7 linked regions of the Homo sapiens genome follow. The protein of the gene in region 1 interacts with the protein of each later gene in a pairwise test. Each region holds a gene or a part of one and is shown on either strand. Other genes may lie near its edges. The genes, in order: GOLGA2, GFAP, MOS, TTC23, ZNF250, RHPN1 and IGFN1.

Region 1 (3,500 bases):
GCCATGGTATTGATCTCCTCCACTCTTCTTATTTCATTTCCCTGAACCCACATCTTCCTCCTTCCCTGACTTTCTTGCCTCTCTCTAAGCCACTTCTACCTTTCTCCCCCTGCCCTTGTTTTTCCCTTTTCGCCTCCTGTAGATTCAGGACATTCTGAAGGTGCTGGTGTCCGACCTTAACCGTTCCAATGGGGTAGCGCTCCCCCCATTGGACAAGTGGAAGGTGAGGCAGTGCCGAGACCCCTCTCTGGCTTGCTCTCTCCAGCTGTGCATGCCCCTGAGGCTTCTCTGGTTTGGGGGATACTTTGCCTCTGGCTTATTTTATGTTGCTGCCATTAACCTTCCGCCTGTTTATGTCCGCTTCTTCACCTGCTTGATTGATTGGGTTTTTATTCTTCCCCCAAATCTTTTATCATCTTGGAGAAGGTGAGACATATCTTAAAGTTTAAAAGTTTAAAGGTAATTTGGGAATAACTTTTAGAGCAGGTGTGTGGGATTTGGGGCTTTTTTTTTTCTTCTTTTTTTTTCAGAGACGGAGTCTCACTGCCCAGGCTGGAGTGCAGTGGCACAATCTTGGCTCACTGCAACCTCTGCCTCCTGGGTTCAAGTGTTTCTCCTGCCTCAGCCTCCTGAGTAGCTGGGATTACAGGTGCCTGCCACCATGTCTGGCTCATTTTTGTATTTTTAGTAGAGATGGGGTTTCACCATGTTGGCCAGGCTGGTCTTGAACTCCTGACCTCAAGTGGTCCACCCACCTTGGCCTCCCAAAGTGCTGGGATTACAGGCGTGAGCCACTGCTCCCAGTCTGGGATTCTGGGATTTGGGCTTTTGAATGCCCAGTGTGGGTACTCTCAGACTAGGAGAGATGAAAAAAAAAAAACACAAAAAAACCAACAGACCTTTAGGTTTTACCCTAAAGGCAAAGATCAGTAAACCACCTAGAAGTTAGTGTTTTTTTTTTTTTTTTAAATTAATTCACTTTGGTTTAAGAGTAGGGAACAAAGGGTTAAAAGAAAATGAGTTCACATTATAGTTGGAAGGATTGAAGCTATTTTTTCAGAGGAACTAACTGTAAAAGTTGTGAGGTTAACCAAACAGATGAGTGACCAAGACGTTCTGCCCCTAATCTCTCCAAATGGACATTTAGCCATATTCATTGGGCTCTTGACAACAAAGGCACTTTGATAAATAAACAGTGGATAAAATAGATGAACAAGGTAGGCTGCACACCGAGGGAGGCAGACTCCTCTGAAGGAGGCAAGAGAGAATTTTGGAACATTCCAAATGCTCAGCTCGGGGGGAGGTTGGTTCCAAATGGACTCCAGGCTGGAGAAGGTGGCATTTGAAGCTGGCTTGAAGATTAAAGGTGGGTAACATTAATCCATATGGGGAGTGGGGGAGGCAGGGGGAGCGGTGAGGCCGTGGCCAGAGTGTGAACTCACAGAGCACCTTTCAGGAACACAGGGAGCCTGGTGGGGGGCAGGGCATGGAGGTACACAGGGCTGGGAGACAACCTCCTCTGGCTGTGATTTGGCATTTCTTCCATCTCTAACTCACCTGGGGGACTCCTTCCTGCCAAGCCAGAGGAGCAGGGCACGAATAGAGCCTGATCCTGTTGGAGATGGGTATGGGGAGAGGGACTGAGACAGAGCAGCCTTGGCTGCTGTTAGAGAGTTGTCCAGTCTCATACCTGTTACCCTCCAGTTGATCAGGTCTGTCCAGGTGCTGTGACTCACCTTGCCAGCTCAGAGGAGACGCTGAGTGGTACGGCTGGGGAGCACAGGCTTAGAGGTGACCTGCAGCCAAAAGCATTTGGCTTTTGCTCTGCCAATGGTCCAGTGGATTAGGGGGTCTTCAGCCTGTTTCCTAATGCTCTGAGATTCTGTGCCAGCCCAGGTCCCTCTATTCTGGAAACAAAGGCCTAGATCCCCGTATTTCCTTCTTGCTGTTTTGTTTTTGTTTTTGAGAAAGAGTCTTGCTCTTTCTCCTGGAGTGCAGTGGTGTGATCTTGGCTCACTGCAACCTCCCCCTCCCGGGTTCAAGTGATTTTCATGCCTCAGCCTCCCAAGTAGCTGGGATTACAGATGTTGCACCATCACGCCCGGCCATTTTTTTTGTATTTTTAATAGAGATGGGGTCTTGCCATGTTGCTCAGGCTGGTTTCGAACTCCTGGCCTCAAGTGATTCACCTGCCTTGGCCTCCCAAAGTGCTGAGATTACATGTGTGAGCCACCATGCCCAGCCCCTTGCTGTTTTTATACCTTCTCTATATCCGTAACTGTTTCCAATGTAGGTTTTGTTTTTTTTTAATTTCTCATTTTTATTACCATGTAAGTTTTCTACTCCAGGAATGCAGGCCTGTGATCGTAGTATCCTGAGCGGAGCTGATAACATTTCCAGAAGTAGGGAATAATGGAGAGAGAAAAAATATCTTAATGGGATGGGACATTTTGAGGAGAGTAGGCTTTTTTAAAAACTCCATCTTGGCTACAAGACTTAAAATAATGAAATAACTTGGTTGCTCACAAAATAATCATGCTATGTGTGTCAGAAAGTCCTCAGAAAAATGCTTTTTCAGCCAAGTGCAGTAGCTCATGCCTGTAATCCCAGCACTTTGGGAGACTGAGGAGGGTGGATCACCTGAGGTCAGGAGTTCGAGAGCAGCCTGGCCAACATGGTGAAACCCCATCTCTACTAAAAATACAAAAATTAGCTGGGCGTGGTAGCGTGCACCTATAATCCCAGCTGCTTGGGAGGCTGAAGCAGGAGAATCTCGAACTCAGGAGGCGGAGGTTGCAGTGAGTGGAGATCTCGCCACTACACTCCAGCCTGGGCGACAGAGTGAGACTCCCATCTCAAAAAAAAAAAAAAAAAAAAATTCCCTTCCTCTGAGCATTCTTGTGTCTAATCCTAGAGATCAGTGGGAACCGAAGATGCCAGGAGGGCCCTAAAGCCTAGCAGGGTCCATTGCTAGGAGTGCCAGCCTTCCCTCAAGGCTAATGCCTGGCCAGCAACTGAACCCTTGCTCTGACCTATTAGATTCAGTTGTAGGCATTGTCAAGGAAACACCAGGTTCCATGGTCACAGTAAACTTGCAAAGATGCAAAGGCAGCTTGGCTCATCTTCAGTTCCACCAGCCTCTGCAGCACTTGCTCTAAGGAGGGAAGCAGATTTGGGTTTTCAGAAGCCAGGGCTGAAGGGTCCAGTGAGCGCGCAGTCCTTTCCCTGGAGAGAGGTGTAGTCACTTCTCCCAGACCCAGCTTCCGTGGCCAGGCCCTGGCTCCCTGGTGTTTTTCTCTTGTCCAGCTTAGCTGGTCAGCCAGCTTTTTCCACTGTCTGCCCATCTGGCTTGTCAGATATTAGAAGATCTCTAGAACCAGAGGCTTGGGCGAAGAGTAAGGTCAGAGCCTGGAGAGAGGCTGGGTGGGGCTCTGATCAAGCAGGTAGGTCCAGTTGGGGGCAAGGGAGAGGCTCCACATGACCCCAAGTTCTGAATCCTA
Region 2 (3,500 bases), on another chromosome or scaffold:
GACTCCCGAGTAAGGGGATTACAGGTGCGAGCCACCACACCTGGCTAATCTTTCTTTTTCTTTCTTTCTTTCTTTCTTCCTTCCTTCCTTCCTTCCTTCCTTTCTCTTTCCTGCTTGCTTGCTTGCTTGCTTGCCTGCTTTCGACGGAGTCTTACTCTGTTGCTCAGGCTGGAGTGCAGTGGCACGATCGCAGCTTACTGCAACCTCCGCCTCCCAGGTTCAAGTGATTCTCCTCTCTCAGCCTCCTGAGTAGCTGGGACTACAGGCACCTGTCACCATGCCTGACTAATTTTTGTATTTTTAGTAGAGACAGGGTTTCACCATATTAGTCAGGCTGGTCTCAAACTCCTGACCTCAGGCGATCCACCTGCCTCGGCCTCCCAAAGTGCTGGGATTACAGGTGTGAGCCACCATGCCTGGCCTATTTTTTGTATTTTTAGTAGAGGTTTCACTATGTTGGCCAGGCTGGTCTCGAACTCCTGGCGTCAGGTGATCCACCTGCCTCAGCCTCCCAAAATGATGGCATTATAGGTGTGAGCCACCGCACCCCTCCTGGTCTCCTGATTTCAATACCGTGCTGGGTTTTCAGAAAGCCAGGTGCCAGGCCAGGGCTTGCAGAGGGGCTGAAATGAAGCCAGGCCAGAAGACAGAGCAGCCAGGACTCTGGCAGCAGCACTATTGGGATTTGGGGGCTCTCCAGCCCGTTTGGAAGAGCCTAGGCTCTCTCTGCTCGGTTGCATAGGTTCTCATACTCATGATGGGGAGGGGGGTGCGATGGGGAAGCCGGGCATGGGAGAGGATGGCTCATGCCCTGAAAGTCCATGAGAGGCCTCCTCTCCCCACATCTGCAGAAACCAGCCTGGACACCAAGTCTGTGTCAGAAGGCCACCTCAAGAGGAACATCGTGGTGAAGACCGTGGAGATGCGGGATGGAGAGGTAAGGAGGGATTTGGGCCCAGTCAGGCTCTGGCTGGCCCCAGGGATTCTCAAGGCCAGGCCATGGAGGAAAGCCTGGGGCTGGCACATAGAAGGTTCCCAGCAACTCCCAGTAGCTCCCCAGGGAATTCTGGAGGAGAGCAAGGAAACTGAATGTAATTCCGTTTCCTCAGTCCCTCCATAGGCTGTTCTAAGGGGAGCCTTGGTACCAAAGCCACTAGATGGGATCCTAATACACACTCTCTCTTTCTCACCCTCAAACTCGGGGGCCTTGCTTGCCAGGGAGAGAAAGAGAATTAAAGTTAGTAGCTTTCACTTCCAACTCTAGCAGACACAGTTGGGGATGGGGAGGGCTTTCCATTTCCAGCTTGGTAAAAGGAAACTACCAGGGGAATGGGAAGAGGGGATTTGGCGTATCCGCCACGCCACTCCAACCACAGTGGGAGCTCATCTTACTCCAGCAGCTTACCACTCGCCAGGCATGACGCTAAATGCTTTCCCAGTGTTATCTCACCACCCCCTCTGTCCACCACGCAAGGCAGCTGTGGTTACTATCAAGAAAAGTAAGACCTGGGAAGTCGGGGACTTCCCAAGGTTACACAGCCTCGTGGTGGTGGACCTGGGGTCTGTGTGAACTCCTAACTGTTGCACTGTGCACGTTCCCTGTCCCCTGCAGGTCATTAAGGAGTCCAAGCAGGAGCACAAGGATGTGATGTGAGGCAGGACCCACCTGGTGGCCTCTGCCCCGTCTCATGAGGGGCCCGAGCAGAAGCAGGATAGTTGCTCCGCCTCTGCTGGCACATTTCCCCAGACCTGAGCTCCCCACCACCCCAGCTGCTCCCCTCCCTCCTCTGTCCCTAGGTCAGCTTGCTGCCCTAGGCTCCGTCAGTATCAGGCCTGCCAGACGGCACCCACCCAGCACCCAGCAACTCCAACTAACAAGAAACTCACCCCCAAGGGGCAGTCTGGAGGGGCATGGCCAGCAGCTTGCGTTAGAATGAGGAGGAAGGAGAGAAGGGGAGGAGGGCGGGGGGCACCTACTACATCGCCCTCCACATCCCTGATTCCTGTTGTTATGGAAACTGTTGCCAGAGATGGAGGTTCTCTCGGAGTATCTGGGAACTGTGCCTTTGAGTTTCCTCAGGCTGCTGGAGGAAAACTGAGACTCAGACAGGAAAGGGAAGGCCCCACAGACAAGGTAGCCCTGGCCAGAGGCTTGTTTTGTCTTTTGGTTTTTATGAGGTGGGATATCCCTATGCTGCCTAGGCTGACCTTGAACTCCTGGGCTCAAGCAGTCTACCCACCTCAGCCTCCTGTGTAGCTGGGATTATAGATTGGAGCCACCATGCCCAGCTCAGAGGGTTGTTCTCCTAGACTGACCCTGATCAGTCTAAGATGGGTGGGGACGTCCTGCCACCTGGGGCAGTCACCTGCCCAGATCCCAGAAGGACCTCCTGAGCGATGACTCAAGTGTCTCAGTCCACCTGAGCTGCCATCCAGGGATGCCATCTGTGGGCACGCTGTGGGCAGGTGGGAGCTTGATTCTCAGCACTTGGGGGATCTGTTGTGTACGTGGAGAGGGATGAGGTGCTGGGAGGGATAGAGGGGGGCTGCCTGGCCCCCAGCTGTGGGTACAGAGAGGTCAAGCCCAGGAGGACTGCCCCGTGCAGACTGGAGGGGACGCTGGTAGAGATGGAGGAGGAGGCAATTGGGATGGCGCTAGGCATACAAGTAGGGGTTGTGGGTGACCAGTTGCACTTGGCCTCTGGATTGTGGGAATTAAGGAAGTGACTCATCCTCTTGAAGATGCTGAAACAGGAGAGAAAGGGGATGTATCCATGGGGGCAGGGCATGACTTTGTCCCATTTCTAAAGGCCTCTTCCTTGCTGTGTCATACCAGGCCGCCCCAGCCTCTGAGCCCCTGGGACTGCTGCTTCTTAACCCCAGTAAGCCACTGCCACACGTCTGACCCTCTCCACCCCATAGTGACCGGCTGCTTTTCCCTAAGCCAAGGGCCTCTTGCGGTCCCTTCTTACTCACACACAAAATGTACCCAGTATTCTAGGTAGTGCCCTATTTTACAATTGTAAAACTGAGGCACGAGCAAAGTGAAGACACTGGCTCATATTCCTGCAGCCTGGAGGCCGGGTGCTCAGGGCTGACACGTCCACCCCAGTGCACCCACTCTGCTTTGACTGAGCAGACTGGTGAGCAGACTGGTGGGATCTGTGCCCAGAGATGGGACTGGGAGGGCCCACTTCAGGGTTCTCCTCTCCCCTCTAAGGCCGAAGAAGGGTCCTTCCCTCTCCCCAAGACTTGGTGTCCTTTCCCTCCACTCCTTCCTGCCACCTGCTGCTGCTGCTGCTGCTAATCTTCAGGGCACTGCTGCTGCCTTTAGTCGCTGAGGAAAAATAAAGACAAATGCTGCGCCCTTCCCCAGAGTGGACTCTGATCTGTTCATGAGAGGGCGGGACTGGGGCCAAGATGTAGCCTTTGACAAGACCAACTCATTTCTTATTACTGATCATCTCTGGGGCCCATGCCCTCACCAAATTCCACCCGCA
Region 3 (2,677 bases), on another chromosome or scaffold:
ATGTACCTCAGTGTATGACTTTTATGAGTGAAGGTCATTACAAACAAGAAGTTTTACTGGGGGGAGTAGTAGGAAAGCATTACTTATTTTTTTAAAAGTTTTTACTGATTTGGTGTGGGAGCAACTACACCATTAATAGTTGGAATTTATGTGGTAGGTATGGGATATATATGGATTTATAGAAAATTTTGACATTTCTGCAGTGGAGTTCTATTTTGGACAAACTTTTATCAATAACAAATTTAAATAAATGAAATACTAGCAATGGAAAGCAAAGCACATGACTATATGAATAAGATTAGTTACTAACAGTACTGAGACAACAGGTACTAGACTTGTAGCTTTGCTAATGTGTCCTAGAAAAAGCACTGGAGACTAAAGGAGTTTTTAGTAACTTTATTTTCTAAAACTCCATCCTACAAATATGTTTTCTTCGACATCTCCACTTCCTTTAAAAACAAATAGAATCAGACAAAAACTTATCTTGACCAGGTTTTCAGTCAGCCGAGTTCAGCTTTCAAAGAGGTGAGATCCACCAAAAGCAGCCGCGCGCTCGGCCTCTGCGCCGCGCTGGGTCTCCAGCAGCGCTGGATGACGTCCCCAAGGCGCTGCCCGGGGAGCGAGTCCTCGAAGACGGCAGCGGAGAGGGACGGGCGCAGGTCGTAGGCCACCACCGCGTACAGTATGTGCTGCCGCTCCCCCGAATACGGCGCCTGCTTGGTAGTCATTTGCCAGAGAGTGATGGCAAAGGAATAAATGTCGGCTTTAGGCGTCACGCCCTCTCCTTTCAGGAGCTCCGGGGCGCGGTGGGTGTATGTGCCTCCTAGAGGGTAAGAGGGTGTCTGGAAGCACAGCAGATCTTCCAACTTCTCAGAGCAACCGAAGTCACTAATTTTACAGACATCCTGCTCACTGATCAAGATGTTCGCGGGCTTCAGGTCCAAGTGCACAATGCTTTGCGAGTGGAGGAAGAGCAGGCCGTTCACAACATCTAGTGAGTACTTGAGACACTTTCCCAAACTTAACTGTCCTCCAGTGCGGCAGTGAGGCTCCCCTGCGTCCCCCTCAGGGTGGCCGGCGGCGCCATAGATGACTTGGTGTAAAGTGACGTTGCCACCGAACTCCATGATGATGGTCCCTAGGCTATTGGACCCTGCGGGCGTGCGCGTGCTGGCAGCCACCACGCGCACGATGTTATCGTGGCGCAGCCTTGCTACGTTGAGCTCAGCCCAGAAACTCCGCCGAGATGCTAGTCGGTTCTTGGTGCACTTGTTCACTTGCTTTATGGCCACAGGAACACCGCGGTAAGTCGCCTTGTACACCGAGCCAAACCCTCCAGCTCCCAGCCTCTGCAGCAAGCACACCTGCTCCCAGTCAATGGAGCACCAGGCCAGCCGGCGCGGCAGCCGCGGGGCCCGAGGAAGAGTGGCCCCCAGAAGCAGCTTCGCAGGTAGCTCTGAGGGACTGCTGCAGGGCCGCGCGTCCACCGATGGGGAAAACTCGCTCCGGAGGTAGGGGCGTAGGGCCAGGGGCGAGGGCATCGCACTTTGCAGGGGGACACCAGGGCCGCTGGAGTGAATGAAGAGACTAGGGGAAACCGCGGGACTTTGGAAACATGACTGACTACTCCTTCGCTCCACCTCATCCCTTTTCTCCTTTTCCTTCACTTGTTCCAAATGAGCTACATCTGTGCTGTCACTCAGCAAGAGTTTTTATCAGATGGAGGGAGAAACCGGAATGAAGCACAGCTATCCCTTTCAGATGAAAGCATTTCCCTTCCACACTTGAAGTGAATTCTTATAAAAACAAGCTCATGCCAGACAAACAGCATGGAGCTGCCTCAGAACTCACCCCTCTTTTACATTATTTCTTAAATTATAATAAAATACGTTTTTTTCAAGTCTCATCCGCTGCACATTATCAGTCCTCAGACTAAAGAGACCACAAAGCACAATGAAATTGTTTCACACTTTGCAGGCTGTAATGATTGTTAGTGTCATTCTCCAGCTGCATTAAATCACTTCCAGCAGGTATTGGCTAAGAGTTAAAATGCAAACAGCAGACATTTGTTTAACCAATTACAGGGAAAAACTAGGTGCAACATTCATATGGATAAAAAATTGCAACCTTAATCAATCCAAATAGAATCACTGATACAGGTCATAACACACACCTAAATTCATCAGTGGAAAGGAGAATCCCCTGACACTCTATGCAGCTTACACAGCAAATTAGCAAGACATCTTAGCAACATACTGACTTCCTAACAATCCTTCCCTTCCAAGGCGATTTGGCCCAACCGGTCAGCTCACTTGCAAGAGAGATTCTAGACTTCGTAGCAAATGAGTTACCGAAGTTTTGAACCAGAGTTGGGGGAGACAAAAGAATAGAAATGATTCAGAGCTGTGATCAGGGCTTCAAATAATAACACATATGGGAGAATTGTAGAAGAGGAAAAATCTGAAGAAATAAAAATGGCACAAAATCACTGGTACCTACATATAATGTAGAAAACCAGAAGTTGGAATGAAATTCAGGGTATTGGCCATCAGACAATAAGATCTTTCTTTCTGATTTTTATAATGAAAATTAATTTTCTACCAAGTGCAGTGAGTTATGCCTATAATACCAGTGCTTTGGGAGGCTAAGGTGGAAGGGCCACTTGAGGCCAAGAATT
Region 4 (3,500 bases), on another chromosome or scaffold:
TTTGCTAAAATCTTCGAGGGCAGCTTAGGAGAGTGAGGTGCATCTTTTGATCAACACTGATCTGGGTGACTTGGGCAAGGGCAGTGAGGCATAGCATCAGTGACACTGAGCATTGGCTGACTCAGCAAGACACTATGGTGGGAAGCCAGGCAGTACAGGGGAACTGATGCATGGCCCACAGGAGTCAGAACAGTCAGCTGGCCTGTGGCCAAACATGCATCCACCTCTCTGCTCATCACTCCTCACCACAGGCAAGAGGGTCTCTGCTTTCACAGGTTCGGTCTAGTTGCAAGATAGATGTTAAATATCCACATGAATATATACTTACAAATATTTGATGACATCAAATGGATTCTCTAAGGAAGAATAATGGGGAGTATCTAATGAAGCCTGGGGAGAGGAATCAGAGAAGCTGGTAAGAAATGAAGAATGGGTTAGCATTGGCCTGGAGATGAATGAGGAAGGGCCTTCCAGGAGGAGGAAACAGAAGCTGGCACTGCCCGGAAGTGGGAATTAGAAAAGGCCAGTGTGGCAGGAACATGGATCAGGGAGAGGAGGCAAAAATGAGCCTGGAAATGTCAGTGGAGTCCAGGTCGTGGACGGTACTGTGGGCCATGTCAGGATTCTGGTTTATCCTGAGGGCATCGGGGAGCCAGTGGACTGGCTTTTACAAGTGAGTGTTCAGTGGTCAGATCTGCTTTTTGGAAACATCACCATGGCTTCCTTATTCTGAGTGGATTAGAAGAGGGCAAGCATGGAAAAAGCAGCTGAGAGATAGGAACTTGTTAGAGCGGTCCAGGCAAGAGATGATGAGTGGCAGGACTAAAGATGGAAAACAATGGATGCATTCAAGATCTATTTTGGAGGAAAAAATGGCTGAGGAACTAGATGGAGTGGGGCATGAGGGGGCAAACCTACCCCATTATTCTGACCTGAGCACTCCCCTTGTCTTCTAGAGATGTGAGGGGGGAATGGGGAGGGAGTCTGAGGCCCCTGGAAGGCCCCTCTCTCTCCCTGGGGTTGGGTGACTGAGAAACATCCTGAAACTCCAATTTGTCCTGGTGATTGTGGCCCTACTTTGGCCTGAGAAACATAGGTATATCGGCATAAAAGCCCGTGTTCCCTAGCTGACAGAAGGCGGGGGTGGAGGGGGGATTAAGGATGAGAAAAGAGCTGTGGGGGAGGAGGTCTACAGACGGTAAGGGAAATAAAGTTTTTCATTTCCAAGATTTGCCATGATAGGTTAGAGTTGAAAAAAATACATAGTCAGCCCTCCATATCCATAGATCAAAAATTATATGGGAAAAAACAATAAAAATAACAATACAACAATAAAAACAATACAAATAAAAAATACAGTGTAACAACTACTACCATAGCATTTACATTGTATTAGGTATTATAAGCAATCTAGAGATGATATAAAGTATTCAGGAGGCTTTGTCTAGGTTATATACAAATGTGACACCATTTTGTACAAGGGCTTGAGCATCCTTGGAGTTTGATATCCTTGGGGGCTCTGGAACCAATCCCCCACAGATACTGAGGAACAACTATATATATATGTGTGTGAGTGTGTATATATGTATGTATGTATGGTTTTCTAGGAAATTGAGATGGCGTTAACCTCTGATAAGAAAAGCTTAACAGAGGCCGGGCGCAGTGGCTCACGCCTGTAATCCCAGCACTTTGGGAGGCTGAGGCGGGCGGATCACGGGGTCAGGAGTTCAAGATCAGCCTAGCCAAATGGTGAAACCCCAACTCTACTAAAAATACAAAAAAATTAGCTGGGCATGGTGGCGGGGGCCTGTAATCCCAGCTACTCGGGGGGCTGAGGCAGAAAATTGCTTGAACCCAGGAGGCGGAGGTTGCAGTGAGCTGAGATTGCACCACTGCACTCCAGCTTGGGTGACAGAGCAAGACTCTGTCTCAAAAAAAAAAAAAAAAAAACTTAACGGAGAGGAGTGAAAAGTAAACAGGACTTAGGTGCGCTGAGAAGAGGGTGTGGGCATACATGCACACATACATATATACATATATATGCACACACATATATATAATTGTTCCTATCTGTGGGCGATTGTATATATATATATGTATTAATATGTACACACACACACATATATAAAAACATAAAGCAATGGTATGTTAGGCTTTGCAGGGAATGCATTCCCAAGGGTTTAATTCCCAATGAATATAAGGTCTGGGTCTTGCTCTATTTTCATAAGCCACGTAAATCACGCTTGTACGAATCAATACTAAACAACTGAGCTGTAACTTCTGCACCGTATAGTTTTCCTTAGACATGCAAACTCCATTCATTACCCAAACTGAGGAGAGAGGGATTAGACACACTAACTGCCACACTATTCCAGCCAGATCTGCAGGACTTCAATAAGCAGGGCCTGTCCACTATTTCTTTAGGATCTTTTGTAGGTGGGCATGACAATCTATATTCTCATAAAGTCTCCCAGCTTCTAAGAGCAAGTATCTCTGGAAGCTGCCCCAAAGGAGCCCTAGCCTTATTTATGTGTCCCTCTAGAGACTGGCACATGCTTTGCACACAGTAGATGCTTAATGGATGCTTGCAGAGTAAAGGAGTTGCCCTTTGGATATCAACTGTGAATAACTAGACAATTGTGATCCAAACTCACTTACCTCTTTTTGTCCAGTCATTTGTAGAAAATGGCAAAATTCATCTTGAATTGAAAGAAATTTGGTTCTTCCCATCCCTTCAGAATCCTTAAGATGAGCCATGCTCTCTTGAAAATACTGCTCAGCTACATCTGAAGAAAAGCATTTATCATAACTTTGAAAACTGCTCACAGATTTGAAATGGAAACAGAATAAATATACTGTTAGCAGTGTTGAGCTATTTGGAAAGAGGTATTGGGACAAGAAAAAACAGTTAAGACTGTCCTTTGCCCATTAATCTGCCTGTTTCATTAGAAAGGATTTAGGTCTTGAAGGATACCGTAATTTACTTTCTTTAATTTTCATACATCTAGCTTTCCCGGTGATACATAAAGAAAAGTTACTGCAAAAGAAGAAACTATGCCCCACATCTGAACACACTGGTAAGTTTTCAGGTTGATCAACCACTAATTCTTCCTATAACTTTAGTTATAGGGTAACTATGACTTTACTGAGGGTAGGACTCTGAAAGTTCACTTATTTTGATGGATTTGGAGTATAATCTTGGTACATATTTCTAAAACATGAAAAATCTGGAAAATATTGCTGACATGCCGCTGAGGGAAGAAATCATTCAAAACCCCAATCATTCCAAATACTTCAACATACTGGTTATAATATAACACAAATATTTTTAAATGCATGCCAATCTTGAATGCAAGAAAAAGAAAACCTCAGGTATGGAAAATGACGAGAGAACTAAAAGCCAGAGAAGTGAGCGGGAGCTGAGGTTGAATGGCCCGTAAGCATATTAGAAAAAAGGTCCATCTACTAGTACTGGGGTTTTCTAAGCCTGAGCAGGACTA
Region 5 (3,500 bases), on another chromosome or scaffold:
CTTGAAAGCTCCTCCTTATTTCTAAAGTAGCTTTATGTGGATAGGGCACCAGGTATTACAGTCTACCTCTTACTGGCCTGCAAAATCAGATATCCTCAGAGGAACAAGGTACATGCCAGCCTTAGAGGAATTTAATTTTCCAGTGACTATACAAGAAGACACATCATCATGTCTTGGAAATCTTGCATAGAACTTCTGCTTACTGACTGCAGCTGTAGGAGACAAGAAAACACAGGAGGGCATTTTGCTGCCACTGCCAAACCAGTCCTGGGCTCCCTTGTGTCCAGCTATGTACTCGCCTGATGGAGAGCTTAAACTGCCTTTGAGCGCCCTTTGATTTGACACCACAGAGACTGTGAAATTCTCTGGGAGCATGGCTGGTTGGAGATGAGAAGTTTTTTCATGGAAGCACCTGGTCCCCTCACCTCTAACACAGGCCACAGAGGACGATGGGACTGAGTTTTAGATTACTGATGTGCATAGAAACAGAAGCCACCTGCCACAACCTGGATCACTGCCACTAGCATCAGAGCAAGCGAGGAGTAGATATGCCTTTGTCTTGTCCTGGCAGTTCCTCAGGATGGATAAGTGTGTGCACCTGCCCAGCCCTGACCCTGCTGTTTGTAACTCAGTAAATTACATGTTGTAATAGCAACGAAAGGATTTTCCACTCTTTTTTTTTTTTTTTTTTTTTTTTTTTTGAGAGACGGAGTTTCACTCTGTCCCCCAGGCTGGAGTGCAGTAGTGTGATCTCGGCTCACTGCAACTTCTTGTCTCCGGGGTTCAAGCGATTCTCCTGCCTCAGCTTCCCTAGTAGTGGGGACTACAGGCATGCACCACCATGTCCAGCTAATTTTTGTATTTTTTAGTAGAGACGGGGTTTCACTATATGTTGGCCAGGCTGGTCTCAAACTTCTGACCTCAAGTGATCCACTCACCTTGGCCTCCCAAAGTGCTGGGATTACAGACGTGAGCCACCATGCCCGGCCAGGATTTTCCACTCTTGAAGGGAGTATTTTGTTGTCACTTCAACTCGCTGTTTTTTTTCCAGACAACCTCAAATATGACCACACTACAGCCTGTACACAACAAGACAGTTTATCTTGTCCATGGGGTAAGTGTATGCCTGATCTTTTTAATTCAGTACAATCTCTGAAGGTGTTAACACTAATGTTTTACAAGAATGTAGAGGCGACTCGGTGCTATGAAGCGTGTTAAACAACTCACACAATTGCTACAAAACACCAGGGAGGGGCTTTTTGTGTTTTTAATTTTTAAAACATTTTTCCTTTTCTTGTGAGCCATAGTAGGCCTAGAGAGATTACTGGGTTTTTATAATTAAACATTTATTTCGGTGAAATCATTTTGTTTCCTTTTATTTGTTCCGTCATGCTTAAAACATACTTCCCTACTTTATACTTAACAACCAAAACCATTATTCTAAAAGCAAGTGACTCTTGGCTGAAGTCCAGCTTCTGCACAGTATGGATGCAAGGTGCAGGCAAGTTTGGCCTTCACAGCAACTTGATTCTGTCTCACAAGCAGTCATATGATGCTTTCGTGCCATGGATGATTGAGCGAGTAGTCTCTTATGCAGTTAGTTTAGTGTGTGTGTGTGTTTTCTTTTTTTCAGGCTGGAGTGCAGTGTAGAGACAGAGTCTTGCTGTGTTGCCCAAGCTGGTCTCAAACTCCTGGGCTCAAGCAATCCTCCTGCCTCAGCCTCCCAACATGCTGGGATTACCGGCATGAGCCACTGTGCCTGGCCTGTGTTTTTATTATTAAAGACATCTTGTCTATCTTGTTACCCTGGCATCAGGTCAGAAGCCGCCCATTCAGGAAACTTTTTTTTTTTTTTTTTAGACAGGCTCTCACTCTGTTGCCCAGGCTGGAGTGCAGTGGCATAATCACGGCTCACCAGTCTCAACCTCCTGGACTCAAGCAATCCTCCCACAACAGCTTCCCGAGAGTAGCTATAACCACAGGTGTACACCACCATGCCCAGCTAATTTTTGTAGAGACGGGGTTTCACCATGTTGCGCAAGCTGGTCTCAAACTCCTGGCCTCAAGTGATCCTCCCACCTTGCCCTCCCGAAGTGCTGGGATTACAGACATGAGCCACCACACCGGGTGAAACTTCAGACAATAGAAGTAATACTTTTCAGTGTAAATGAGTAACTATTTCTTTAGCCTATAGGCTTTTATTCCATGAAGATGAGGCTTATACATTAAAAAAAGAAAGAACTAAAACTTCTATCAGTTTAAAAAACACATAGCCAGCTTAGGCAAGATACTGAGACCCCACACTACAAAATAAAATTAAAAATTAGCCAGACATGATGGTGCATTCCTGTAATCCCAGCCACATGGAGGCTGAGACAGGAGGATTCCTTGAGCCCAGGAGGTTGAGGTTGCAGTAAGCCATGATCACACCACTGCACTCCAGCCTGGGTGATAGAGTGAGACCCTGTCTCAAAAAAAAACCCACATAGAGTGACTTTCTAAAATGAGATATGTTAAAAATTGTATTAAACTGGGCCGGGGGTGGTGGCTCATGCCTGTAATCTCAGCACTTTGGGAGGCCGAGGCAGATGGACCACCTGAGGTCAGGAGTTTGAAACCAAGCTGGCCAACATGGTGAAACCCCATCTCTACTAAAAATACAAAAAATTATCTGGGCATGGTGGCACATGCCTGTAATCCCAGCTACTTGGGAGGCTGAGGCAGGAGAATCGCTTGAACCTGGGAGGCAGAGGTTGCGGTGAGCTGAGATCGTGCCATTGCACTCCAGCCTGGGCAACAAGAACGAAACTCTGTCTCAAAAAAATTGTATTAAACTGAAGACAGTGAATTTAAATTTTTTTATTAAAAAAACTGTTAAATTCTCACTGTTTCAATTTGTCAATACACTTAATAAATTCCTCTGAATAGAATAAAAAGACGCAGAATTACCCAAAAAGAAAAGTAGGCACAAATTTCTGCATAGATTAGGAAAACCAAAGGGCCAATAAATAAGAAAACTGCTCAGCCTCATTATTCATCAGTAAAGTGGAAATCAAAACCACTGTGACATGATGTTACACCTTCAGAATGGAAAAAATGGAAAGATCTGACAATATAACATGTGGGTGAGGATGCAGGGCAGCTAATAGGGATGTAAATTCACATAGCCACTTTGGAAAAGTTTGGCATTATCCAATGAAATTGAAAACATGATCACATTCTGAGAGAATGGAGGTAAAAAAAATGAAAAAAAAAATCGAAAACATGAATTCCTATGTTCACCACTTCCCACTCTTGCATATGTATACAGCAAGGACATTTGTGTGTAAGCACCAGGAAACATAGGAGAATCTTCACAGAAGCATGCTTCATGATTTAAAAAAACATTTGAAAAGAATTCAGGACCGGGCGCCGTGGCTCCTGCCTGTAATCCCAGCACTTTGGGAGGCCGAGGTGGGTAGATCACGAAGTCAGGAGTTTGAGGCCATCCTGGCCAACAT
Region 6 (3,500 bases), on another chromosome or scaffold:
TCTATGCCCCTTCCACTGGGCTCAACCTTCAACCCAGTGTGGAAAGTGGGGCATGGGCCGCCCACCTCCAAGGTCTACCCAGCCTCAAAGGTCCGGCTCGGGTCTGCTCCTCCGCCTGTAGGCCGGGAAGTCACTTGGCCTGCAGGGAGCACTGCGGGTAGGGAGGCCGAGGAATGGACCAGGCCCACAGCAGGTGCCTGTGGGGCTCCAAGGGGCCAGGCTCCCCGCAGCTCTCCTGGGGCCAGGAGGGGAGCAGGGACCTGGCTGGGTGTCTGATGCCCGTCGCACAGCCAGAGCCCTTAAAGCTGCTGGAGCCTTGCAGCGGGGCCTTTGCGGGGAGGGGGTGTAGCTGCGGTGGGTGGCACGGGGGTCTCCTAGGTACTGGGCAGAGGCCCTCGAGGTGGTAGCGCCGGTGGGAAAGGTAGGGATGGGAGGCGGGGGTGGGCGGGCCTCAGGTTCAGGGAGCTTCTCAGATCTGAGGCGCCCATGCCCCTCTCCCACCTGTGGGCCTCTCCAGCCCGAGTCCCTGAAGCAGCTCTGGAGGGAATTTCTTTTCTGGAGGAGGCGGGAGTGAGAAACGGGAGCAGGGTGAGGGTTCCCAAGTGCACATCGGCCCGTCCGCTGCTGGGTGGTGTCCACGGGGGCAGGGCTGGGCTGGGGGAGGCCAGGGTCCTGGGCCGGCACACCCTCCTTCCGGCTGCCTGTGTCCCTCCCTCCAGCTGCCTGTGTCCATCCCTCCGGCCGCCTGTGTCCCTCCCTCCGGCCCCTAAGCGCCAACTCATCTTCAGTTCAGGGACCTCCGTCAGGCTCCCTCACCCCAGCACTCAGCAGGAGGCTGCCGGCCTGGGTGTCCAGGGGATGGTGCGGGTGTCCAGCAGACAGTACAGGGGTTTGGGGGATGGTACAGGTGTCTGGGGGATGGCGTGGGTGTCCAGCAGATGGCGCAGGGGTTTGGGGGATGGCACAGGTGTCTGGGGGACAATGCGGGGGTTTGGGGGATGGCGTGGGTTCCAGGGGATGGTGCAGGGGCTTGGGGGATGGTGTGGGTTCCAGGGGACGGTGTGGGGGTTTGGGGATGGCGCGGGTTCCAGGGGACGGTGTGGGGGTTTGGGGATGGCGCGGGTTCCAGGGGATGGTGTGGGGGTTTGGGGATGGCGTGGGTTCCAGGGGACGGTGCGGGGGTTTGGGGATGGCGTGGGTTCCAGGGGACGGTGCGGGGGCTTGGGGGATGGTGTGGGTTCCAGGGGACGGTGTGGGGGTTTGGGGATGGCGTGGGTTCCAGGGGATGGTGCAGGGGCTTGGGGGATGGCGTGGGTTCCAGGGGATGGTGCGGGGGCTTGGGGGATGGTGTGGGTTCCAGGGGACGGTGTGGGGGTTTGGGGATGGCGCGGGTTCCAGGGGATGGTGTGGGGGTTTGGGGATGGCGTGGGTTCCAGGGGACGGTGTGGGGGTTTGGGGATGGCGCGGGTTCCAGGGGACGGGGCGGGGGCTTGGGGGATGGTGTGGGTTCCAGGGGACGGTGTGGGGGTTTGGGGATGGCGTGGGTTCCAGGGGACGGTGTGGGGGTTTGGGGATGGCGCGGGTTCCAGGGGACGGTGTGGGGGTTTGGGGATGGCGCGGGTTCCAGGGGACGGGGCGGGGGCTTGGGGGATGGTGTGGGTTCCAGGGGACGGGGCGGGGATTTGGGGGATGGCGTGGGTTCCAGGGGACGGTGTGGGGGTTTGGGGATGGCGCGGGTTCCAGGGGACGGGGCGGGGATTTGGGGGATGGTGTGGGTTCCAGGGGACGGTGTGGGGGTTTGGGGATGGCGCGGGTTCCAGGGGACGGGGCGGGGATTTGGGGGATGGCGTGGGTTCCAGGGGACGGTGCCTCATCCTCCAGTCTCTGTCTCTGCCTTCCCATGGCCACCTCCATGTGACTGTGTTCAAATTCCCCACCTCGTATAAGGACCCTTGTCACTGCGATTAAGGACCCCCTACTCCAGGGTGGCCTCATCTTAACTCATTATATCTGCAAAGACCCTATTTCTAGAAAAATTGCAGTCACAGGTACTGGGAGTCAGGACTTGAACCTGTCTTTTGTGGGGACACAATTCACCCATAATAGATGGTCACCCGCTCAGCTGGCTGCTGTGATTTTGGGGGGCTGGACGAGCAGGCCTTCTGTCTAGGAAATCAAACCTTTCTTGTATAATGGGAATAAACTAATTAAAATGCACACAAAGATCTCGTTCACATTAGCAAAAAGAACTCTCTCCAGATATCTAGGAGAAAACCCAGGAAAACACGTGTGAGCTCTTTACGGGGAAGACGGGAAGGCCTGAGAGACGTGTGTGCGTGGAGAGGGTGTCGGGTCCACAGAGGGGAAGACCCAGTGCGTGTGCACGTTGGCCCCATGAATCCGCAGCTTCATGCAGTGGTAGGTCAGTTTCATGGTGGCAAGATTCACCTTCAGACGCCACAAGGTCCTGGGGAAGAAGAGGTCCTGTCTCCCGACAAGGGCGGGAAGCAGTCCCAGGAGCCACCAGAGGCCTTGTCTTGCTGCTGACTGGCAGAAATGGCCAGGTTGGCCACGCCTGACTCAGACCAGGCTCGCCCCAGGGCTGGGTGGGAGTCAGTGTCCCTGAGCAGTGAGCCCTGAGCAGCACTGTGGGTCTCAAAGCATGGAAGGAGTGGGTGCTGGAGAGGCAAGCCAGCCAGCCCACGCCTGGGAGCCCACCCAGGGGACAGCCACAGGTAGCTGCAAATAATCTTGTCCGGGTGGAGACCCAGGCATTCCCACATGGCCACGGGGAAGAGTGGGGGTTGGGAGGCCATGGTGAGAGGGAGGGACACGTGAGGATCATGTGGGCAGGACCCCAACACCACAAGGGTGGGGTGGGCTGAGGCATGAAACTGGATCTCCCTAGAGTGAAATGTAAGCTCCAGCACGCTGGCACCACTGACGACACAGGAGCCATCAAAGTCCAGAAGGGGCCCCGCTGGGCACGCCCCACTCTTTCGCCATGGCTGGTGCTGGGCAGGGCCGCGGGGCTGCAGTCTGGGTGCAAGGCTCAGAGTCATTTCTCTGTGGATAGGGAGGGCACGGGTGTGCGTTCGCTTCGAGAACCATTCCCAAAGTCAGACCGCAGCCTCTGCACCAACCATCGGGGGCCAGTGGCCGCCCCCAGAGCCTCAGGGACCCTGTCCTTTGAGCCCACGCCTAAACCCACATGGGAATGATTTGGAGGCGTGGGTGAGTTGGATGGGAAAAAAATTGGGAGGGGCAAGGGGGGGATCCAGAATGAAATCCAGAAGCGCAGAAGGAAGGCTGTGAGGAGCAGTGGGCCGCCTCCTGCAGGGCTCCCGGAGCCCCTACTTGTCCAGGCTGCCTGGTGAGACCCTGGCTTCTGGTGTCCTTGGCAGGTGCCAGCCTCCCCCGCTGACCCCCATCACGAGTCAGCAGCTTACCCCACCGACCACGTCCTTCTGCATTGACTGCCTCCTGTCCTGCTCTGGCCA
Region 7 (4,058 bases), on another chromosome or scaffold:
GCTCTCCAAGGTCCAGCCCTCCCCTCACACTCTCCATTGTCTCCTTTGGAGCCCCTACATCTACCTGCCCCATTAGACTGTGAACTTCATGATGGGAGGGCCCTGTCACTTGCTTACCTTTGTATTCCTAGGGCTTAACACAGTGCCAGAGCCAGGGCTCAACCCACGGTAGGTGTTCAACACATGTTTGTTGAACAAATGAAAGACCAGCCCTGACACTCAGAAACACACAGGGAGGACACACAAATGTATGTGTGTGTGCATGCATGCACACACATACACGTACTTGCGCAGAAGAGGTCAAACACCTCCCCTCTCGGAGCACATCCAGAGGTAGCGCCTGTAGAAATTGGCAAGATGCTAATCAACACATGTAAATATTCAGTGTCCTCCCCTGGATGCAAACATTCACCCCATTTCCCTTCTACTTCACCTGAATCCTCAATCAAGCCTCGCTTATGGGTGGCAACAAAGCAGTTCTCTGTCCTTAAGGAGAGAGAAGGTGGCTCTTTCAAAGCACACCAGGTGGCCTTATCTCCTGGGCCTCACCTGCCCTCCACTCTCCTTAAGAAAATCTGTTACCAGCCATTGTATTTCCAATTTCCACTTGCCATCCATCTGTCCGACCAAAAACCCAACCATCTGCCCTGCCGACTTCGCCCCCAACCCTGCTGGTCAGGTCACCCCTTCTGTTCCTTGAAAAGCTCCTGAGCAAGCTCACCTTCTCCAGCAGGCCTGCTGACTACACAGTTCCCAGGGTCTCCTCCTTCCTGGTCACTCTCGGTGGACTCTGTGTCTGTGACTCCGTTAATGGCTGCCTTCCCTCCCACTCCCAAAGTTTGCTGCCTGTTTGATACCACTTGGAGGTGTGATTCCCAAGAGGGCAGTGGCTTATGTATCTGTGTGACTTATGGTGTCAAAGGTCCCAAGGGACCAGCTTAGCTGAAAAGTTAAGGGTTTGGATGATGAAAATGTCCTTGCTAAAAAGGGTCGTATAAATGAGGCTTCATGGGGCAAATTTACACTAAGCCAGTCTGGTTAAGAGCTTAAAGCTCTGCAAAGCGAGGAGTTGGATGGACTGATGTCACAGGACCCTTCCATCTCTGACCTCCTCTGAGCTAGAATGTTAGCCCTGGGGGCCTTGCCCTGCCAAGCCTGGACTGGAGGAGAAGGAGGAGGCGGGGTGAGTGGGAGGGGCAGAGGGAGCAGAGGCGCCTGCAGCAACCGACACCTGCTCCAGCCCTGCCTGTCCACTACCAGTCAATCCAGAGCCTCAGCAAGCAGCAGCTGGAAACGGGGAAGAGGGAGCAGACAGGAAGCGGGAGGTCAGCTGTACACCCAGGTAAGTGGGTGCTCACACCTGGCTGCCCACCCGGGCCAGGGTAGGGCCAGGATGGAGACACTAGCCTGCTGTCCAGCTTTTCTACGCAGGAAGGGGCAGGCAGTGGGCAGGATGTCTGCCTGGGGAACATTCCCTGGCTGGCGGATCACACGCTGGGGTGCACCTGTATCCCCTCTAGGTTACTCCAGGATATCTGGAGGAGAGAATTTCAGTGTGTCCTGTCTGGGCATTTCTGTCCTGGCTCTAATTTTCTGGACACGGCTTGACTTTGGGTGTGATACGATGACCAGATTAAAAATATCACTAGCAGTCCAGAATAAGGACCTCGGGCTGGGACTTGTTATATTTTGGTTAGTATCATGGTCAAAGCAGTTGAGAGAACTCCATTTGGCTCTTCCTGCCTCAATTTCTACCAGTTGAGAGGTAGCAGGGACCAACTGGAGGTAGCAGGGACCTGGATGTGCAGGATGGATCCGGGGAGGGTAGGGAAAAAGGATGGGGAGCCATAGGTCCTGGAGAGGGGGCAGGGAGGGACTGTCCCAGGATCCAGTGCTGAGAGTGTTGTTGGGACAGCTGAAGTGAGGACACAAACTGCTGTTTCCTTCTGGGAAGAACTGGAGTTCTTCTCAAATGTGGGAATGAATTATGGAGGAGAGAATTCATTTCCTTTCTCATCCCTTCCAACTGAGACTACATCCCTCTAGTCTCCAATCCAACAGATCTCTTTCCCTGTGTCATTGACTTTGTACCAAATCTGGCTTATTCTAAAAGAGAGTGGAGCTCCAGAAGTGGATGCTTAACGTCACATCCCTAAGTTCCCCCAAGAGCTTTGCTTCTTTTGCCCTCCTCTGCTGGGAGCTGTAGGCAGGAGGCTGGAGGGAGAAGAGTGGTATCAGCGTCATCCTTCTTCATGTGTGACCAATAGCTGAGTAACAGGATGATAGCTGCTCGTGGTGATGATGTGGGTGACGATGGGGATGATGACTCAGATAGCTGTGTTGAACTCAAACTACTCCAGTGTGGGGGTCACCGACTGGCACCAGTGCACTTGCATCTACCAGGAGGCTGCACTGAGGGGTGGGTGGGATGGGGGCCCTTGCAGCCCTCCCCCTGGCCGTGTCCAGCTGGGTCCTCATCCGTTGGTGGCTGCCTTCCCTCCCACCCTTCCTCGTGACTCCCTTCGGCGTAGTGCCTGTGGCACCCGTGACCACTCCAGAACGCAGTTGGCGTACCATGGCATTCCAGCACGCTAGGGTGCAGCGGCTGGGCTGGCGAGGGGCTGCCAGGGGTCAGAAGTGCCAGTGGGTGGCCGTTGCGAAATGGAATGATCTCCATGGGAGAGAGGAATTTGCTCTGTCATGTGTGATTCTATATTAATGATAAGGCTCTTTGGGCAGAAAATGGAGTCCCCAAAATGGAACCGCTTGGCCATGGGCCAATCGCACAGAGGGTGGGACTGCTGGAAGATTCTTTCAAGACATCCCCCCTCCCTGATTTATGGCTCTCATCCCACCCCAGACCCAACCCCCTTCCTCTCCTGTGTGGGACTCCCCATTGGCCATAACAGATGGATGCAATTAAGAGGAAATCAGGAGAGATGGTGGTGGTGAGAGAATGGAAAATACTCCTATTCACCTGACACTATAATTCACTGGCTTCTGAGGGGAGCAGATGGATTTATGGGGATCCTACAGGCCTGGGCCAAGAAGAGCTTAAGAGCAGCAAATTTGAGGCCTCTCCCCTGCAGACCTTGTGACTGGAAGGATTCTAGATTGGTGGAGCGTGGGAAGTAGAGGGCTTCAGTGTCCTGCCAGAAAATCTCAGAGTTGGGGGAAGAGCCAGGAGGCCCAAAGAATGTCCTTGGAGAATTCCCATTCCAAAGCCAATGGGGCAAGCTGAAAGGAGCCTGAATCCTTTCACAGCTGAAATCCTTTCACAGCTGAATCCTTACACAGCTGAAAGGATCCTGAATGGGTCTGATTTCCTCAGGTTTGGGAGGGTTGTGTCTCATGTTCTGGGCAGGGTAATCAGGTCTGGGGTCCCACCAGGAGGCCAGGCCACCAGCACAGTGTGCAGGCTCAGCTTATGGTTCCCTTTACCTGGGAATGTTACCAACTGGGTAGCATGCTACCCACTCCCTGGTCTCTGGGAAATTGGTTTTGCTGGGGACAGGGAATTGCAGGAAACTAATCAGTGCCATTAGTGGGTTAGAAAAGCTCTTGGGGGCAGCAGCTTTTTCCAGCTCCCACCCCAGACATTGGCTGATGCACTGATGGTGTGGGAGGGGTGGGGTGAGACCAGCCTGGATTTCTCAAAAGCAATTCCATTTCTGTTCTCAGGGTAATAGAACTTCTACCCTCAGAGGAGTCAAAGAGGAGGCAGAACTATGGCAGGTAAGAGAAGAACTAATCTCCCCTCCCCAGCCCTCCCTGGCGATCCTTACCAGGACAGAGAGGAGAGAAGTGGTAGGGATCAGAGATTTCTGGGAACTTGCCCATCTTGTTGTTGTTTTTTTTCTCCTTATTTTATTTTATTTTATTTTTATTGTTGTTGGCTTTTTTTGAGACAGAATCTCACTCTGTTGCCCAGGCTGGAGTACAGTGACGCGATCTCAGCTCACTGCAACCTCCACCTCCCAGGTTCAAGTGATTCTCCCACCTCAGCCTCCTGAGTAGCTAGGATTACAGGTGCCTGCCACCATGCCTGGCTAATTTTT

The links.
Region 2: the proteins of GOLGA2 (region 1) and GFAP interact in binary tests that used the Homo sapiens proteins (3 or more experiments, as listed by UniProt).
Region 3: the proteins of GOLGA2 (region 1) and MOS interact in binary tests that used the Homo sapiens proteins (3 or more experiments, as listed by UniProt).
Region 4: the proteins of GOLGA2 (region 1) and TTC23 interact in binary tests that used the Homo sapiens proteins (3 or more experiments, as listed by UniProt).
Region 5: the proteins of GOLGA2 (region 1) and ZNF250 interact in binary tests that used the Homo sapiens proteins (3 or more experiments, as listed by UniProt).
Region 6: the proteins of GOLGA2 (region 1) and RHPN1 interact in binary tests that used the Homo sapiens proteins (3 or more experiments, as listed by UniProt).
Region 7: the proteins of GOLGA2 (region 1) and IGFN1 interact in binary tests that used the Homo sapiens proteins (3 or more experiments, as listed by UniProt).

The regions. Positions count from the first base shown.
Region 1 is NC_000009.12:128,269,508-128,273,007, reverse strand, and holds part of GOLGA2 (golgin subfamily A member 2), read left to right. Parts: intron 1-142; coding exon 143-223; intron 224-3,500. UniProt on the Homo sapiens protein: Peripheral membrane component of the cis-Golgi stack that acts as a membrane skeleton that maintains the structure of the Golgi apparatus, and as a vesicle thether that facilitates vesicle fusion to the Golgi membrane.
Region 2 is NC_000017.11:44,905,501-44,909,000, reverse strand, and holds part of GFAP (glial fibrillary acidic protein), read left to right. Parts: intron 1-851; coding exon 852-937; intron 938-1,612; coding exon 1,613-1,654; 3' UTR 1,655-3,500.
Region 3 is NC_000008.11:56,112,442-56,115,118, forward strand, and holds MOS (proto-oncogene serine/threonine-protein kinase mos), read right to left. Parts: upstream 1,542-2,677; coding exon 501-1,541; downstream 1-500.
Region 4 is NC_000015.10:99,159,082-99,162,581, forward strand, and holds part of TTC23 (tetratricopeptide repeat protein 23), read right to left. Parts: intron 2,787-3,500; coding exon 2,659-2,786; intron 1-2,658. UniProt on the Homo sapiens protein: Participates positively in the ciliary Hedgehog (Hh) signaling.
Region 5 is NC_000008.11:144,884,454-144,887,953, reverse strand, and holds part of ZNF250 (zinc finger protein 250), read left to right. Parts: intron 1-1,051; coding exon 1,052-1,114; intron 1,115-3,500. UniProt on the Homo sapiens protein: May be involved in transcriptional regulation.
Region 6 is NC_000008.11:143,371,876-143,375,375, forward strand, and holds part of RHPN1 (rhophilin-1), read left to right. Parts: intron 1-1,856; exon of another isoform or gene 1,857-2,259; coding exon of another isoform or gene 2,260-2,418; exon of another isoform or gene 2,419-2,422; intron 2,423-3,500. UniProt on the Homo sapiens protein: Has no enzymatic activity. May serve as a target for Rho, and interact with some cytoskeletal component upon Rho binding or relay a Rho signal to other molecules.
Region 7 is NC_000001.11:201,189,566-201,193,623, forward strand, and holds the start of IGFN1 (immunoglobulin-like and fibronectin type III domain-containing protein 1), read left to right. Parts: upstream 1-1,258; 5' UTR 1,259-1,342; intron 1,343-3,681; 5' UTR 3,682-3,728; coding exon 3,729-3,735; intron 3,736-4,058.